Linked DNA regions of Homo sapiens. The protein of the gene in region 1 interacts with the protein of each later gene in a biochemical or structural test. Each region holds a gene or a part of one and is shown on either strand. Other genes may lie near its edges.

Evidence for each region.
Region 2: of the proteins of PRP4K (region 1) and KLF13, one has a biochemical effect on the other in vitro, tested with the Homo sapiens proteins (one study listed by IntAct).

Annotation. Positions count from the first base shown.
Region 1 is NC_000006.12:4,015,615-4,025,594, reverse strand, and holds the start of PRP4K (serine/threonine-protein kinase PRP4 homolog), read right to left. Parts: upstream 4,296-9,980; 5' UTR 4,170-4,295; coding exon 4,129-4,169; intron 1-4,128. UniProt on the Homo sapiens protein: Serine/threonine kinase involved in spliceosomal assembly as well as mitosis and signaling regulation. Connects chromatin mediated regulation of transcription and pre-mRNA splicing.
Region 2 is NC_000015.10:31,329,835-31,337,292, forward strand, and holds part of KLF13 (Krueppel-like factor 13), read left to right. Parts: intron 1-7,458. UniProt on the Homo sapiens protein: Transcription factor that activates expression from GC-rich minimal promoter regions, including genes in the cells of the erythroid lineage. Represses transcription by binding to the BTE site, a GC-rich DNA element, in competition with the activator SP1.

The DNA.
Region 1 (9,980 bases):
AATGAGTATTATCTCAAGAAATAATGAGTAGGTTCCTGCTAAAAATGCTACCAGCTCGGTACAATCAGGTTAACCTTAATTATAGCATTTTCTTATACAGGGGCTAGGCATACAATGGATCTTTACCAGTCTCAACTCATCTCTCAATGCAAATGTCACAAATCACAACTAAAGTCTGACCAGGTCAATCTGGAAAACTTGAAACATTGAGTCAATGGCATAATGTATTACATACAATGGGCCTGTGCTAAAACAGCTAAATTAGCTTTATCATCAACGACTTTCTTCTAAAGCTCAAGAAAAAGGTTTCTTGTTAAGAAACCTAACGGCCCTCTTGGATAGTTTATACTGACAATAAATATAGGCCATATATATTTCATTTATATAAATTTACGCTTTAACATTAACATTTTACAATTTAATATCCCACATTTAGCCAAGTGGATGTGTATACCAACCTGGTCACAACAGGTTTATCACAAAATATTTATTGAGAACCTATTGAATATTGGATAACATTCTTCAGATCACATTATTTGGAAGCAAAGGTGAATGAGAAGTGCAGACAACATGGGGTTGCTTAACAGTATTTATTTGTTTTGTTAAGTTTTACCTTTTAAAAAACCCATGTCTTGAGGCACCCAGCACAATGAATGAAAATCGTGGAACGCCTTTAAAATAACATAGTCACGGTCAGGTGCAGTGGCTTATGACTGTAATCCCAACACTTTTGGGAGGCTGAGACTGGCGGATCACCTGAGGTCAGGAGTTTGAGACCAGCCTGGCCAATATGGTGAAATCCCGTCTCTACTAAAAATACAAAAATTAGCACGGCATGGTGGTGCGTGCCTGTAATCCCAGCTACTCGGGAGACAGAGACAGGAGAATCACTTGAACCTGGGACGCAGAGGTTGCAGTGAGCCAAGATTGCGCTACTGCACTCCAGCCTGGGCAACAGAGACTCGGTCTCAAAAAAATAAAATAGTCACCAATCACCAACCACCAGTGTTATTTTAACTTCTTCTTTCACATTTTTTTCCAAACAATAGTCTTAGTGAATTTATTTGGTAGGCATTCAAAATATACAGAGACACAGAGAACTGACTGATTTAAATTTGTGTATGAATAAAGCCGTTTTTAAGCTAGACAATTCTTTAAATTTTTTTTTAGTGGCGAGCAAAGTGAACGCCACTGCTATTTACCAGGAAAGTAATTAAGCCTATTTCTCTGACAAGTTAAAATGTATATATCTTTTAAGAAACTGGGTCTCACTATGTTGCCTGGGCTAGATTCAAACTCCTAGGCTCAAATGATCCTCCTGCCTCAGACTCCCTAGTACCTGCAGCACTTGAGCCCAGTAGTTCAAGAACAGCCTGGGCAACATGGGAAGACTCTGCCTCTACAAAAATACTTAAAAATTAGCTAGGCATGGCTCGGCACGGTAGCTCACGCCTGTAATCCCAGAACTTTGGGAGTCTGAGGTGGGCGGATCACGAGGTCAGGAGATCGGGACCATCCTGGCCAACAAGGTGAAACCCCATCTCTACTAAAAATACAAAAATTAGCTGGGCGTGGTGGTACGTGCCTGTAATCCCAGCTACTCGGGAGGCTGAGGCAGGAGAACTGCTTGAACCAGGGAGTCCAAGGTTTCAGTGAGCCAAGATCGCACCACTGCAATCTAGCCTGGAGAGAAAGTGAAACTCCGTCTCAAAAAAAAAAAAATTAGCTGGGCATGGTGTCATATGCCTGTGGTCCCAGCTACTCCGGAGGCTGGAGTAGGAGGATCACTTGAGGCTGAGGCTACAATGAGCCATGATAATGTTACTGTACTCCAGTCTGGGTGACAAGAGCTCGTGTTTCAAAAATAAATAAAATGAACAAAAAGAATTAATGTAGCTATAAAAATCAGAATGGGTCCAAAAGACCAACTAGTCTTAAAACATTCCCTCTGGTCTCTGCTTTGCCAAATCAGGTTTGAGAAATTAGTTCTCAATAAATTAGACATGTCACATCAAAAAATGTATCTTTCTGGGACAGTGGAAAAAAACAAAAATAATTTCATACTTGACAAGCAATTTAAAAAGAAGCCACATTGTATAGTGGGAGGCCAGACAGTACAATAGTTAGCAGCAGGGCTTTAGAACCAGACTGCCTGAGTTTAAATGGGTGTGCCACTGAGTGTGACCTTGAGCAAGTTACTTAATTTCTCTGTGTTTCAGTTTCATCATCTCTAAAATAAGGAAAATAAACGTATCTACCTCCATAGGGTTGTTAAAAGAATTAAAGCCTTCAGGGAGCTTAAAAGCTGCTTCTTATATTTATTCTTTCTAAATTTTCTGTTTTGAATAGATTCTATATAACTGTAAACTACTCAGTGTTCTCTAAAGAACTGTTGTAGACACTATATTCAGGGACTCACTATGAGCACCAGGCATAGTTTGCTTTCATACCAAATGGTTATCTTCTTTGTTAAATACTTTCAAACTACTGAAAGTGAGACATATACAGACCAAATATTCCATTTACACCAAGTGCTCTGTGGGGAAGGGAAGGGAAATTAAAGATTATCTCTGTTACTCATACAGCAGAGGCCTAAATATGTATTTTTGAAATTATTAAGTCTAATATTATTTGAATACAGTATGTGAATAAACTATGGCTGACCCACTCCTGGAAATGAATCTGAAACATCCCTAAAATCAAATAAATGGACATAATATTACAGAACTTTTCAGATTAGTAGAAAATGTAACCACATAGCATGAGATCTGCACGGTACTGGCATAAACACTGTAATTGTGCCACACAATGAACTTGGTGAGAAACAGTAAGAGGTTAAAGCTAATTTAAAACTTCAGAATCCATTTGTTCTCTGCTAAGTCAAATTGTAAAAATAATACAGCAGTTTTGAAAAGCCCTTAATTAAAAATTCCGTTTCTCTGCCTAGCTGAGTAATGCAGATGATTGAGGAGCCCAAAACTGGATGCACAGCAATTAAGTGTCAGGTTGTCTGGTGGCAAAGATTTCTTCTATCGCTCAGTCACAAGTTGCTGGGAGACTATACCTCTTTCTAAGATGGCTGGAAACAGATCAGACAGTGCAGATGCAAAAAAAAACAAAAAACAAAACAAAAAAAAAAAACGGTCGCTATAGGAACATTGCCGTAAAATCCATTCTCTCTGTTAAGGTTCTTGTTTGAGTTTTCCTAACATAGACATGAACAGCAAAATACTGCTTTAAGTTAACCAATGGTTAACCTTTGCAGCATACACTCGTATTTTTTTTTTTTTCATTTTTCATTTGGCCGCATGGATTCTTAATGTTAGCTTAATTATAGACATAAAGTGGTTTGGCAGTAGCTAGCAATTCCCACTACTCCTTCCACTCGTCCTCCTAAAGAAGGGTTATAAACTCAGGCAAAAAAAAAAAAAAAAAAAAAATGCCAGGCCTCAAAACCAAAGACTCTATCTTACTTTGCCTCAAGTTTGCAAGTTGGTAAAAAAGCTGCCGGTAGGCACTCAAAACAAAACAAAACAATACTGGGTGACTGCTGGACTAAAGAGTACAAGGTGACGAGATCAAGTATCCCGCTAGCCACAGACTAGCTCTGGGATGGCCAGAGAGTGTGACCCCAGCACCTCCGCTCTCTGCTTTCAGGTCCTAAACTGACACCAGTAAAAGGACGACTGGGGGTACCGCATGAGGAAGAAAAGACTTAGGGCTTGGCCCGCCTGCTGCCACTGACCCTCGTGTCCCCAACACAGATGCCGCTAAGAGCTGCGGCCAGGGAGCTCAGATGGGTCCCCAAAAGAGGCATAGGAAAGCGCGACCTCACTGCCGCGGCAGCCGCCACGCGCACCGGACCTGTAGAGGCCGCTCGCGCCTACGCCTCCCGGGGCAACGACGCGCGGCAGGCCGCGGCCGCCTTCACCCCAGCAGCCACGGCCTCTGGGAGAAGGAAGCTCGAAGGCCGCCTGCTCCCCATGCCTCCCACCCCACAACGAATCGCGCCGGAAAAAGCAAAGTTTGACTCTCGCCGTTAGGCCCGAACTTTCCCGCCACCCCGTGCAGCTCCCACTCGGCAGTCCCCGGGCTCCAGCTTCTGGCCCACTCACAGAGACTACTTACTCTGGCTGCTCCCGTAGCGACTGGGTCTCCGCGGCGGCCATCTTGAACTTCCTGACTCCTCGGCGGCGGTGGCGGCGGCTCCCGGACGGTGGAGGGTAGGGGAAGTGGAGGAAGAAGGAAAAGAGCTGCCGCGCATGTGCCGACCGTGTAGGGAAGAGCTGGGTTCTGAGTCCGCGCTAAGAATCCGGATATAAAACCCCACGTCCCGGGACTAGCGCAGGGCGTAGTGTCGCAGCTTCCGGGAGCATGGTGGGCGGTGCTGCTAAGGATTGAGGTCGAGTGTCAAGCTTGAGCTCTTCAGTCAATGCTAGAAATGGACGTTTAGTTATTGAATCCCGCTAACGAGGGGAGCCAACAAGAGAGGGATGTCGGCATCGGGTGTGCGGTTCCAAGAACTGATTGGCTGTGGAGATTAGAAGTTAGGTGAAAATTCTCTTAAACTCGGGCAAACGAATTGATGATTTTTCCCCTGGTCGGTGTTAGAGACACAGTAAATGCTTAACCATCTCGCTAGACAGCTCAACTGAAGTGGCATTAACTTCCCGGGAAAGTGTGTAGAAAGGCATTTTTAAATACTGTAAACTCGAACGTAAATATCTTTTAATGTGGAACTGTTACTACATTTAACACTGAACATCTTTTCAACTTTTACATAGTTCAAGGGTGACACGATTCAGTTCGTTATTTCCGTAATTGGAACGTGTAATGTTTTTTGGCCCAAGTTGCGTTATGTGATTTTGTTTTCTTCTATAACGACTCTACAGTAATGGGGTAGAATGGAATATTGTGGGGAAAACATTTACTGGCTCTTGGAGAACTCTCAAAACCAATTAGGTTCTTTAATTCCTCTTTAAAAAAATATTTCTCGCCTGGCGCTGTGGCTCACCCCTGTAATCCCAGCACCTTGGGAGGCCGAGGCGGGCGGATCACCTGAGGCCAGGATTTGGAGACCAGCCTGGCCAACATGGTGAAACCCCGTCTCTATTAAAAATACAAAAAATTAGCTGGGCGTGGTGGCGCTCGCCTATAATCCCAGCTACTCCGGAGGCTGAGGCAGGAGAATCGCTTGAACCCGAGAGGCGGAGTTTGCACTGAGATCACGCCACTGCACTCCAGCCTGGGCGACAGAGCAAGATTCCATCTCAAAAAAAAAAAAAAAATTATCCATACTTTGGAACCTGGAAGCAGCGTGACGATCACTTTCATTCTTGTAATCATCTGAGTTTGCCTTTGTCCTAGAAAATTGAGTTCGGAATCTCCAGACTCCATACATATCTCTTGATTTCCAGGGGAGAAGGGTTTTAAATGTTCTTACAAAATGTCTCTTGTTGCCTGAATTCCAAACGTTTTGAAATGTTAGGGCCGGGCGCGGTGGCTCACGCCTGCAATCCTCTAGCACTTTGGGAGGCCGAGGCGGGCGGATTGCCTGAACTCAAGAGTTCGAGTCCAGCCTGGCCAACATAGCGAAACTCCGTCTCTGCTAAAAATACAAAAAATTAGCCGGCGTGGTGGCGCCTGTAGTCTCAGCTACTCGGGAGGCTGAGGCAAGAGAATCGCTTGAACCCGGGAGGCCGAGATCGCGCCATTGCACTCCAGCCTGGGCAACAAAAGCAAAAACGCCGTCTCAAATAAATAAATGAAATAAACTTAGTAAACTATTTTTAAATAATGTTAAAATTAACGGTGTACGTAGTAGAACTGTGAGAGATCTCATCTTGGAAATAGAGTGATATACTTGAAGGCAAGAGATTGGGTCAGGTACTATTAACACGTTTTACACATGAACAAACCGACACTAAGAGGTAAGGTAATTTGCTTATGATTGAGTTCCCAAGTACAAAGCTGATTTTTGAACTAAAATCTGACTCGAAAATCTGCTCTTTTCTTATCAGGCTGCTTCCTACAAAAATATAACCTCGCTTAGCATCTGCTTGTTAAGCATCCACCCTCACAGCTCTTTGGCATTCAAATGTTTGTTGAGTAGGGGTAATAGAGCACTACGTTCGAATCAGAAAATGCCTTATTTTTCCTTGCTTGCAAGAGCCTATTATAAATAAATGCCTTGTTTTCGCTGTGTCTCTTTCTTGTTGTCGAGAGCTCAGGCTGGTCTTAATTTCTGCAACCATAGTATTATCTCCCAGGTCTCCTTCTGCCCTGTGTATTTTGCAGTTATGCTTTATGTGGAGATGAAGCATCCTAAGTGTGGAGAACGATATATGGGGCCCGAACAATAGGTGCTGAAGCCAGATTGTGTGACTAAAGTTGGTATTTGAACAAACCAAGTGTTTATTTTTTTAAAGAGCATGGTAAAAACTAAGTTTCAAAAATCGATGCTGGCAAAAATTTCCTTGAAAAAATTCTCACCAAGTTCACTTGCACGGTACTACCTGGGGAATGAAACACATTTGTCAAGGACACGCCCAAAACTATGTTGCTGTTGTAATTTTCAAAGACTGGGAACTGCGGCAGGGGGAGTTACAATTAAAGCAAACATCGGCGTATCAGTTTATTCATTCAGCAAACGTTTATGAAGCAACAAACGTATGCCCAATATTTCAGTCTTGCTGCTCTTCCTCCCCAAATTCAGGAACCTTTGCAACGGAAAGCGGCCTCGGGCAGGCGCCTTTTGAGCAGAGGAGTAAAACCGGTAAGTCAGCAGTGGAACCCGCCTCCCCGGAAATCCTTGGAGGGGGCGGGGCCCTGGGGAGCGCGCTCTTCCCAGCGGCAGCTGGGGAGGCGCATGCGTACTTGCGTCATCGTTGGGTAGCAGCGGGGAGGCGTGGGAGGATCTGAGGCCTGCGGTGGGCCTTGGTCCCTTCTCTCCCCGCCCCGAAGCCGCCTGCTCAACCTGAGGGCCACCGGCCTCTATCCGTCGGTGCCGATGCTCCTTGCTTCCCAGCCAGAGCGTCTCATCTCTGGGCCCGGAGCCCCAGGCTCGTTCTCCTCAGCCCCTGCCGGCGGCGGCGCTCTTGCAGCCATTCCTGTGAGGTCGTTTTTCGGAGCAGCCGGGCCGGCCGAGGAGTAAGTAGGCGCCAGAGTTCTAGCTCGGGCATCTGCCTCGGGGCCCTGTCGCCGCCGCGCCCCGGATCCTGCGTTGGTCCTGTCCGATAAAGCGGAGGTCGGCCCTGCTTGCTGACGAGACCGTAAAAACCACGGCGCTTGGCGCCCTGCCGCCGCCACACCACACCAAAGTGTACCTGCCCGAGGCTGGCTTCGGGCGCGAGCTTGCATTTGTGACTTTCTCTTACCGTCTTTGTTTGCTTCGTTTTAAGTATTACTTCCAGATAAGGGACACATTCTCGAAATACTTTGAAAACAGTTTTGAATTTTGTTCCTCCCGTTGAAACGGATTAAATTTGGACCTTTCAAGCTACACTGTGCAATCATCAATCTCAATAAGCTCTTAATAGGCTCATTCTTCCGTAGGCTACAAACAAAATAAAGATCATAACATCCTGCGGAGGAAGCCATTGGTCCATGTAGAGTCGCCAGATGTCAATTAAGAGTAGATCGCTTTTCAGAGAATACTTAACGACTCTGGTTTAGACCTAGACTTGGAACTTTGAGGTGTTTGGAACACTGGGCAGAATTTTCCTTTGTTACAAAACAAAGTTTATGAGAACGTAATTTGTTTTTGTTGTTTTTGTTGTTAGTATTGAAGCAATTTTGGTGCAAACCAAAGGATAACAAAGCAAAACAATGAAAATCACCCAGAGTTCCATTACCCACACTGAACCAACTTGAATATATTGGTTTATTTTGGCTTTTTTCCATATGAAATGTTAAATTTTCTTGTACTCACGTGTAGAATATGATAGTTTGCTCTTTCATGTAACATGTCTCCCAATTTTTACATACATAATTCTAGTTTCAGTAAGCATTTTTATAACTACACTCTTTTTCCTTTGTTATTGTATGTCTAGGTTATTTCAACTTTGCACTGTTGCTTGTAACTACTATGTGATGAGGCAGTAGCTAGATTAGTATTTAGAACGTGAGCATTCAAGTCAGGCAGACCTGGGCTTCACAACTTACTGTGCAATTTCAAAGAGTTTAACTTTTTTGAGCCTCATTTTACACAGTAACATGGGGATAATGGTTCTGATTGCATAGAATTATTATGAGAGTAAGATGAAATAATGAGTGGAAGTGCCTGCAGCATGTATTGTTAGTAAATGCTGTATTACTGCAGGCAAATTTTTCTTTTGTTGTGGTTTTTTGGTGACATGTATGATTTATTTCCAGATTTTGAATATACTTAAATACTATTAACCACAGTAGGGGTATGGGGTTTGATCCACAGCTTTTCATATATTTTATACAATATATTGTGTGTTTGATACACAGCTTTTCATATACTTTATTATAAGTAACACATGAATTAGAAATAATTTTTCACAATAGGAAAAACTTTTTAAAAATTAAAATTTATAATCCTGCTAACCGTAGGTGAATAGTCACATTTTGGGCAATCCTTTTTTATGCATATATATGTAGTGGTTTTATTTTATTTTATTTTATTTTTATTTTTTGAAACGGAGTCTTGCTCTGTTGCTCAGGCTAGGGTGCAATGGTGCGACCTCGGCTCACTGCAACCTCCGCCTCACGGGTTCAAGCAATTCTCCTGCCTCAGCCTCCCGAGTAGCTGGGATTACAGGCGCCCGCCGCTGCGCCCGGCTAATTTTTATATTTTTAGTAGAGACGGGGTTTCACCATCTTGGCCAGGCTGGTCTCGAACTCCTGACCTCGTGATCCACTCGCCTCAGCCTCCCAAAGTGCTGGGATTACAGGCATGAGCCACCGTGCTGGGCCTGTAGTGTTTTCTAAAAATAGAATTATATTATAAATTGGGTTTATCAACTTGCTGAAAATGGCAGAGGCCAGTGCGATGAGAGTAGGGTGATTAAGGGAGTAGGAAGTAATGCAGGAAAGGGAGTTTGTAGGATTTAGATTTCACTGAAAGTGTACTGGACAGGTTGGGCATAGTGGCTCAGGCCTGTAATTGTGTCACTTTGGGAGGCTGAAGTGGAAAGATCCCTTAAGCCCAGGAGTTCGAGCCAGCCTGGGCAACATAGGGAAACCCTATCTCTATAAAATAAAAATAAAAATAATTATTTTGAAAAAAAAGTTTACTGGACAGAGTAAGTTCAGGGTTGAGGAGTGACCTGATTTGTTTTAGAAGGCTCATTTGGCTGCCATATGGAGATAGACTGCAAGGGACCAGGGGAGGAAGATGCAATCCAATTAGGAGAGTATTTAAGTAATCTCTGTGAGAGATGGTGTTAGTTTCGATCAGGGTGTAAGTAGGGAAAAATGATTGGGTTCTGGATATATTTTGAAGGGAGAAGTTATAGGATTCACTGATTGATGGGATGTGGAATTCAAGAGAAAGTGACTTAAAGAATTTTGGTTTGGGCAGTTAAACAGATACAGTTGCTACTTACCAAGATAGAGACTGAAAGTTGGGGGAAACTAAATAGAGTTCTGTTTCAGTCATGTTACCTGTTGTGGAGTCTAACTAGTTGGAACAGGAGTATGAAAGACTTAATCTTCTGTTCTTGAGGTATCAATTTGTCCCTTCATTTCTGTCAGTTTTTGCTACATATATTCTGTTACTAGGTGCATCTATCCTTGTAAATTGTTACATCTTCCTTGTGGGTTTATCCTTTTATCATTAAAAATGTTTCTCTTTTTCTCTAGTAACATTGTTTTAAAGTCTATTTTGTCTGATATTAATGTAGCTATTTCAGTTCTCACGTGATTACTATTTACATGCTTTGTATCATTGACTCTAAAATGTGTCTCCTGTAGACATATAGTTGGATCTTGGTTTGTTTTTTGTTTGTTTGTTT
Region 2 (7,458 bases), on another chromosome or scaffold:
TTGGAAGTGCACAGGGCTCCGGCAGCGGGGTGGCGGGGAGTTGGGAAGAATGCAGATTTCCGGGCCCCTGATGCCGACCTAGTACACACAGTTCCAGCGTGCAGTTGGGAGTGCATGTTACCGGTACCCCAGGTGACCCATTATGAGAGTTGAACTGCCCAGAAACCTGCCTCTGGAGGGAGTCTGGTTCAGCATCTGGTGGAGGGCACCCCTGGGAAGCCCATTTCCAGCCCCTTCCCAGGTGTGCAGAGCATAAGTAACTGGTGTTCCTCAAGGGAGAAGAGGAGCTTGCTGTTGGGGGAGAAAAGAGCATCTTGCAGAAGGGAGAAACCCAGGCAGGCCTCAGGGATGACTGAGAAGGCAGGGCACAAGGTGATGGCTTTGCTGCAGCCGTGGGCTCTGAGGTGTCCGTGGTTTGTGGGCCTCTAGCAGCATTGTGGGGTCTCTGCAGTCAGTGACTGAGGTCATGCCGGGCCCCGTACTCCATTAGGCTCGGGAAGGTGCCCCCGCCCCACTTCCCGCATTTCCAGGATCCACAGTAATTTCATGGCAGAGGGTGAATATCACAACCAGGAAGGTGGCCAGCTGCTCTGTGCTGTTCCTCTATGTGACCAGGGACCGGTTCCCAGATCTCCCTGCAACTTGGTGATGTCTGCCCTGACCACCTGCAAAGTCTTCAGGGACATGAGGTCAAGTATGTGAAGACCCTTTGAGAAGTGCAAGGGTCAGCCTTGACTCTGGAGGCACTTGTGGTCCCTTGGCCGTGGCTCTGCTCTGATTTTCCACCCCCACTCTCTGAACAGCTGCATGCTAAGAGCTTTCTGTCCTGGTTAGCTGTGTAGCAGTGTGGTTTCCCACTCCCACTCTTCCAGGAGTTATCCTGTGGACACATTGGTCTCTGTCACATTTAGGTAATTGTTGATATTATAACAATGCGTAATAACACAAAACCAAGAAAAACATCTTTGCAGCTCGTGCTACTTTATTATTTGGCCAATTAGAACTTCCGAGTCCAGACCTGGAAAGTTTGCTAAGAGGGGCTTAGGGGAGCAGCAAGACCAGGAGCAGATTTTCTTGGAACCTGAGGTGCTTTGATGCAGGAATTCAAGGACTCACCTTCGATAGGTCAGGCTGGGGCCCTCTTGAGGGCAGACTGGTTGCCCAGATCCTGCCTCTGGAGAGTCCTGCGTGTTGTCCTGAATGGGGAGACTTGGCAGGCCCCCAGCAGAATGGCCACTTGGTCTTTCTTGGCAGAGAGACCCTGAATACATTTCTACCTATTTGTTCCCACAGAGAATTGTTTTCAAAACTGCTCTGTGCCCTGTTTTCCCTCCAGCGCTGGAGTCAAAACATCTCTCTGCATGCTGGGCCCTTTCTGGGTTCTGGGGGTCCCATGGAAAGGTGGGCACAGTGGCGTGCCCAGCCTTCCCTCCTGCAGAACCCGAGGCATGTTTGTGGTCACCTGGCCCTGTTTGGGGTGGAGGAGGGAAGTAGAGTAAGATCACATTCTGTCAGCCATTTCCTGTGATAATTTGGGTGGGGTTCACCTGAAATTTATCTTTACCCACTGAAGCAAGGATTTGATCCTGACAGATTATTGCGACCCCTCCCCCAGGGCACACTCTGGCTTTAGAGACTTGTTTCCAAGCACACCGCCCCTTGGGCTCCCTGCAGGTCCTCCCTGATGCTGCTGCCTGGGAAAGCAGAGCAGAGGGCATCTGGCAGAGCAGAGGGCATCTGGGTGGGATCTCCTTTACCCAGGGCAAAGCCAGGCTTGTTGGTGGCCTGTGCTTTGTTCAGAGACACACACAGGCCAGTGGCTCAGCACGCCCACCCCTCCCTCTCGTACCCTCGCTGTCCCAGGCTGCCAGTGGCCCTAGTTGTGAAACTCCTCAAACAATGCAGAAATGTATGCAGCATGGGAGGTGCCAGCCTGCACCACCACCAAACCACTGTTACCCCGCGTTGGTGTTTTTCTTTACAGACCTTCTAGATGGATTTGCACATATGCATATGTGTGTGTCCACGTAGACATTTTGAAACATACTTAAATAGGATCCTAGCAAGTATCTCACTGCTGGCATTTTGTTCCATGTGTTTGCTTAAATGAGGCATCTTCATTCTTTTTCACAGCCGCATGGTATTCCAAGATGTGGTTATATGGCTGCATTGTAACTTATTTACCCTTCACTTATGGAAAGGACAGCTACATTGCCTTTTTTTTGTTTTTTCTGCTATTACAAGTTGTGTAGTAGTGGACTCTGGTGTGTGTGTGTCTTGGTGCAGAGGAGCTGGCATTTCTGTAGGATTGAGACCTAGTGGTGGTATTGACAGGGTTGATAAGTGTTGGTTAAATGTGTTGTGGAGTTACTGTGTTATGTTTTTCAAGGAAAGAGACCACACTTGTTAGTCCCCGCTCTGAGGGAGAGACCTATTGTGTCACGACTCCACCTTCTTGAAAATGTTTCCTTCTCCCAATTCTCCTTTTGCATGTGTGAGAACATTGAGAACGTTTAAAACAGTACCAGCAAAACCACTGTCACTCCCGCACGCCTGGTGGCTGGCTCTCTTGGCCATCTTCAGTTCTGGTTTTACAGAGATTGGAAAGTGTGTGGTGGGCGCTCAGCCCTGGAGCAGTAGGATGGGGGCTGGTGTGGCGCCATCTCCACTCCCCCCTTCCCCCTCGCTGAAAGAAGGCTGGAAGCTGTGCTGCCTGAGCAAACTGATAGGACGCAGTTCATTAAACCAGTAGCCTGTGTCTGGGGCTTCACATGTCTGGAACACAGCAGAGATGGGGGCCTGATCCTTCTGAGTAGGTGCCCTGAAGCCCAATTCTCAAGCTTCTGACAGCCTCCTGCCCTTAGATCCTGTGTGCTCCCACTTTACACATAGCTTTAATCTGATTGGTTACTGGGGAAGGGCAAAAGACATGGATGGCAGCTAAAGGCAGGGGAAGAAACAAACCAGCAGGTTGTTAACATATGCATGTGTAAGTGTGTGTGTTTAAATGGGTCATGAAGAAGCCCTACAGTCAACCAGCACTGGAACAAGCATGGGGCCATTTGTGGAGAGGCACATGTTTCTCCGCAGCAATCCCTGAGGTCTGCATGAGAGACCCTGGAATAATGAACACTCTAGCAGGGATCTTGAGATACCATGGCACTGTGAAGTGTGTTCAGTTTGTGCTTTCAGGAAGCAATTAAAATAGTTTTAAAAATAAAAACTTCTAGAATAGTACACTCAACTTTCACAATCCTAAGACTTCCAGACTGTTTGCTCTAGGGGCCAGGCATCATTCTGTTTGTGTTAGTTTACATCAAGCTATCTAATCTTCACAAGGACCCTATGAAGTAGGCTCTATTATTAATACTAAATTTCAAATAAGGAAGCTAAGGCTCCAGTGCTTTAGGAATCATGCCCAAGGTCACACAGTAAGTGAGGGTGGAACAGGGATTGGAGCTGGGGCTTGAGCCTGGGCAGCCGCCCCCGAGGTGGGTGTACCTGCTGTGTCCTACTGCCACTCCTGTCTGGACCAGTGTTTCAGGTCACTGCAGGTGAGCAGGGCCCTGTGGTAGTAGAAATCTGGATGTCCCCAGCACACGGCTTCCCGCACAGATTTTTGCTGCTTCTTAAAGGTTGAGGGAGTAGTATAGTGAACACTCCTATACTCTTCCCATAGGGTCATTGGGTAATATTTTGCCACATTTTTCTCCTTTCCTCCTTCTCTTTTTCTTTCTAAAGAAAGAAAAATTAATTTTTTGTCTATATTTTTCTCCCTTTTCCATCTCGCCTCTCTCTTTAAATATTATATATTATCTGATACGCAGTCCATATTCAGTTCCCCTAGTGATTCCTAAAATGTCCAGTATAGGATTCAGGATCCAGTTAATCACACATTGCATTTGGTTGTCCTCTCTAGTTTCCCTTAGTTTAGGATAGTTTCCCATCTTTTGGTCCTTTATTATGTTACGCTGGCATTTGAAGGCCCAAAGCCAGTTGTCTTGTAGAACAACTCACAATGTGGATTGGTCTGATTGTTTCCCGTGATCAGGTCTGGTTTAAACAAATTTTGGTCCAAAATATGGCACAGGTGATACTGGGCACTTCCATCGCCTCATGGGGGGGGGAGGGCATGGGATATTAGCCTGTCCTACTGCAGGATCACATGGTTAAGGTGGGCGGCCAGGCTCAGCCCCTTCTGTCCACCTGGTTGGTTTCTACTCCATCTTCCAGCTTCCTTGACTGGAGAGATGTTGGGGGTTGGGTTCAGCTTTGGAAGGCTTTTGAAGTCAAAGGACCACCTGGAGGAGGCCTAGGTGCTCCTTTCCCCAAACAGACAAGACACCCTGATTTTCTTTTGAATGAAAATGGCTCCAGATGGTATTAATAGCCAGCTCAAGGGTAACTGTGAGTGTGTTCTTGGTCAGCCCACCTGAATGCCGGCCCTGTGGCCACAGGCAGCCTGTCTCCTAGGGCTGGGGAGGGCCTACGGCGGGTGACACTCTCTAAGTCCTGGTGAGTCTTTATGTGCTTTCAAGAAATAAACAAAAATTGTCCTAAGTCCACACACCTGAACCTGTTTTTCTTTTCTTTCTTTCTTTTTTTTTTTTGAGACGAAGTCTTGCTCTTGTCCCCCAGGCTGGAGTGCAATGGCACAATCTCGGCTCACTGCAACCTCCGCCTCCCGGGTTCAAGTGATTCTCCTGCCTCAGCCTCCCAAGTAGCTGGGATTACAGGCGCCTGCCACCGTGCCCAGCTAATTTTTGTATTTTTAGTAGAGACGGGGTTTCACCATGTTGGCCAGGCTGGTTTCGAACTCCTGACCTCAGGTGATCTGCCCACCTCGGCCTCCCAAAGTGCTGGGATTACAGGCATGAGCCACCACACCCGACCTTTTCTTTCCTTTCAAAGCCCCAAATGGGATTATTTTCTTGAGAAGTCAACTTCCTGTCGAGATGGGAATAAACTTTTCTCCAGCTTGGCAATTCAGAAGCAGCCACTGTGCTGTGTGGCTGAGGTTGGGGTCATGGAGACAGCCACCAGTGCAGTCCTCGGGGTGGGAGATACTGAGTTCAGAAGGCTTTGGACACTCTTCTGGGCCAAAATAACAGAAACTCGAACTTGTTTTACTCTTGGCATCAATCGGGCACTGGGCACAGAAGAAATCCTCACCCAACCAAAAGCTCTGCCATTTGGCCATAAACACGTATGCCTCCATAGCCACGTACATGTGTAGAAACACATATGGGTGTGTGTGTGAGTGGACGTGGCACCCTGCTCATGCTTGCTGAATGGGGGAGCATCCACACCTGGAACATAGTGGCTATGTGGAACTTCTGATTTCTAGTTCAGTTTTAGATCTTAGGTCCGTCTTCATCCCCAGCAAATGTTACCAGCTGTTTGTGAGGCAGGCTTTTGGGGGAGACATGAAGTTTGTTCAGTTGAAACTAGGGCTGTGGTGAAGGGGCTATGCCTTCACACCCTGCTGCCCTGCCCAGCAGAGTGACCGGCTCCTGTGTCCTCCACACTGCTTCAGTTCCCCTCCTGATGCAGGGCCAGGCTGTGATCGCCATTTGCTGTTGGGCATTGTGTGTGTGTGTATGTGTGTGTGTGTGTGTGTGTGTGTGTGTGTGTGTGTGTGTATGGTGGCGGGGCAGGGGGCGGGGGGAGGGCACAGCATGGCACCGAGCACCAGAAACACAGCCTTGACCAGTCCCTGGTTTTTACCAACATCTTTCTGGACAAACAAGACAGCACACTTGGCAGGGGGAGTATTCTGTTTATTGTTCTCCATTTTTGAAGTTCATCACACAAAAACACTTGCTAACCAGAAACTTGGCTGCACTCCGTGGCCATTGGCCAGTCTGTCCCAAGGTGACTTGTTTGGGGAAGCACTGAAGCTTGATGTCTCAGATTAAATGTCCTTATGCTGGTGCCACAGGGGTGTGGCCTACTCTGCATGGATGGGTGACCCTGGGTCCCCAGGCACAGGGCACAGGCTCGTCTCCTTGAAGCTGGAGCCCACGCTGCATCATGAAAGAGCTCTGCAAGAATTGAAGGCCCAGAGCAAAAATCGCTTACCAAAGAGCATGTGGCTCAGAGCCTACCTTGGCCTCCTGTCTCAGGAGAAACTTCTAAAGGTGGAGTTGTGTCACGTGCTTGTCTCCTGTGAGCACAGGCCAGGTGGGAGGAAGCTTGGGAGTGGGGAGAGGATGACGTGGGCTCAGAGGAGCCACGAGCTTCTCCCCCGACCCCAGCGTACACTGGACACACATGGGAGGTGAGGTGATGCCTGAGCAGCCTGGCGAGTGGTCAGGGCCCTGGGTGGGGCCTCCTCATTCCCTTTTGGAGCACTGGCAGCTAATGCTTGGGGGGGCCACCATCCTTTCCCGGTCTGGCCTCGTTGGGGGACACATCTGTCTTCCTCCTGGAGTAAGGAGAGCCTGTGAACAAAGCAGTGACCCCAAGACCTATGGCCACTGGGGATGGCAGGAGCCTTGTGCTTCCATATGTGGGTCCAAGCTGTGGATGGGGAGGCCAAGTGTCCTGGCATGTGGGAGGTGGTCAGGTGCTCCCTGGAGATCTAACAGGTATGCATGGGTTAGCGAGACCTGAGAGTCCTTCTTGGGCCACACCTAAGTATGTGCAGGGCCTGTGATACAGCCAGAATTTCCTCCTCTGATAAACTTCTCTGAGCCTTTCTACTTGTCTTTAACCCTTTTATTGTCTAAATGCTCACTAAACAAGAAAAATAATACAGGGAACTTGGTTTAGGGGTATTGGTAGAAGTTAAAGTTGATGGCAGAGCATGAATAGGGGTGTCTGCAAGGAATTGTTGGAAAAGAGATTGGAAATAGAGCGAAGGCGTATGTGAGTCTCAGAACCTGACTCCTTTGTTGACTGGGAGTGGGGCAGAGGGCATGGGTCCAGCAGGTCATTGGTCTCGGGTTACCAAAAAGGTTAAGGCTATTCACCTGGGCCACTGGCTGGGGTGCTGCTCAAAGCCAGGATCTGGGAGCCGGGGTCAGCACCTTGGGTGCACCTGGGCATCATAGCAACAACAAACCCCAACACATTTTCAGGGACCAGGGCGGATAAATGGGAGTTAATGACATGGTTCCCACACATCCGAATCTGGGATATGTAAATGTGACACACAGTCTGAGCATTTGGCAGGCTCTCCATGGTCTTGCTTTGCATAGTTTGGCCTATCTGCTCTCCAGACTTACTGCCCCGTTGTCCTCACCTGCATGACTGTCCATGTCTGGTTTGTTTACTCGTCATTGAAGGCATCCACAGGGGTGCCATCTGCCCCCATGTCCCTCTCCCACTAGGCATGCTAAGTGGCCTGCGGCAGGGCAGGCAGGGACTCAGATTCCCTCCATCCCATCGCTGAGGTCTTACTTCCTTCTTCCGCCCGCCTTACACGTGGAAGGTTTCTCCTGTGCTTGTCCACCA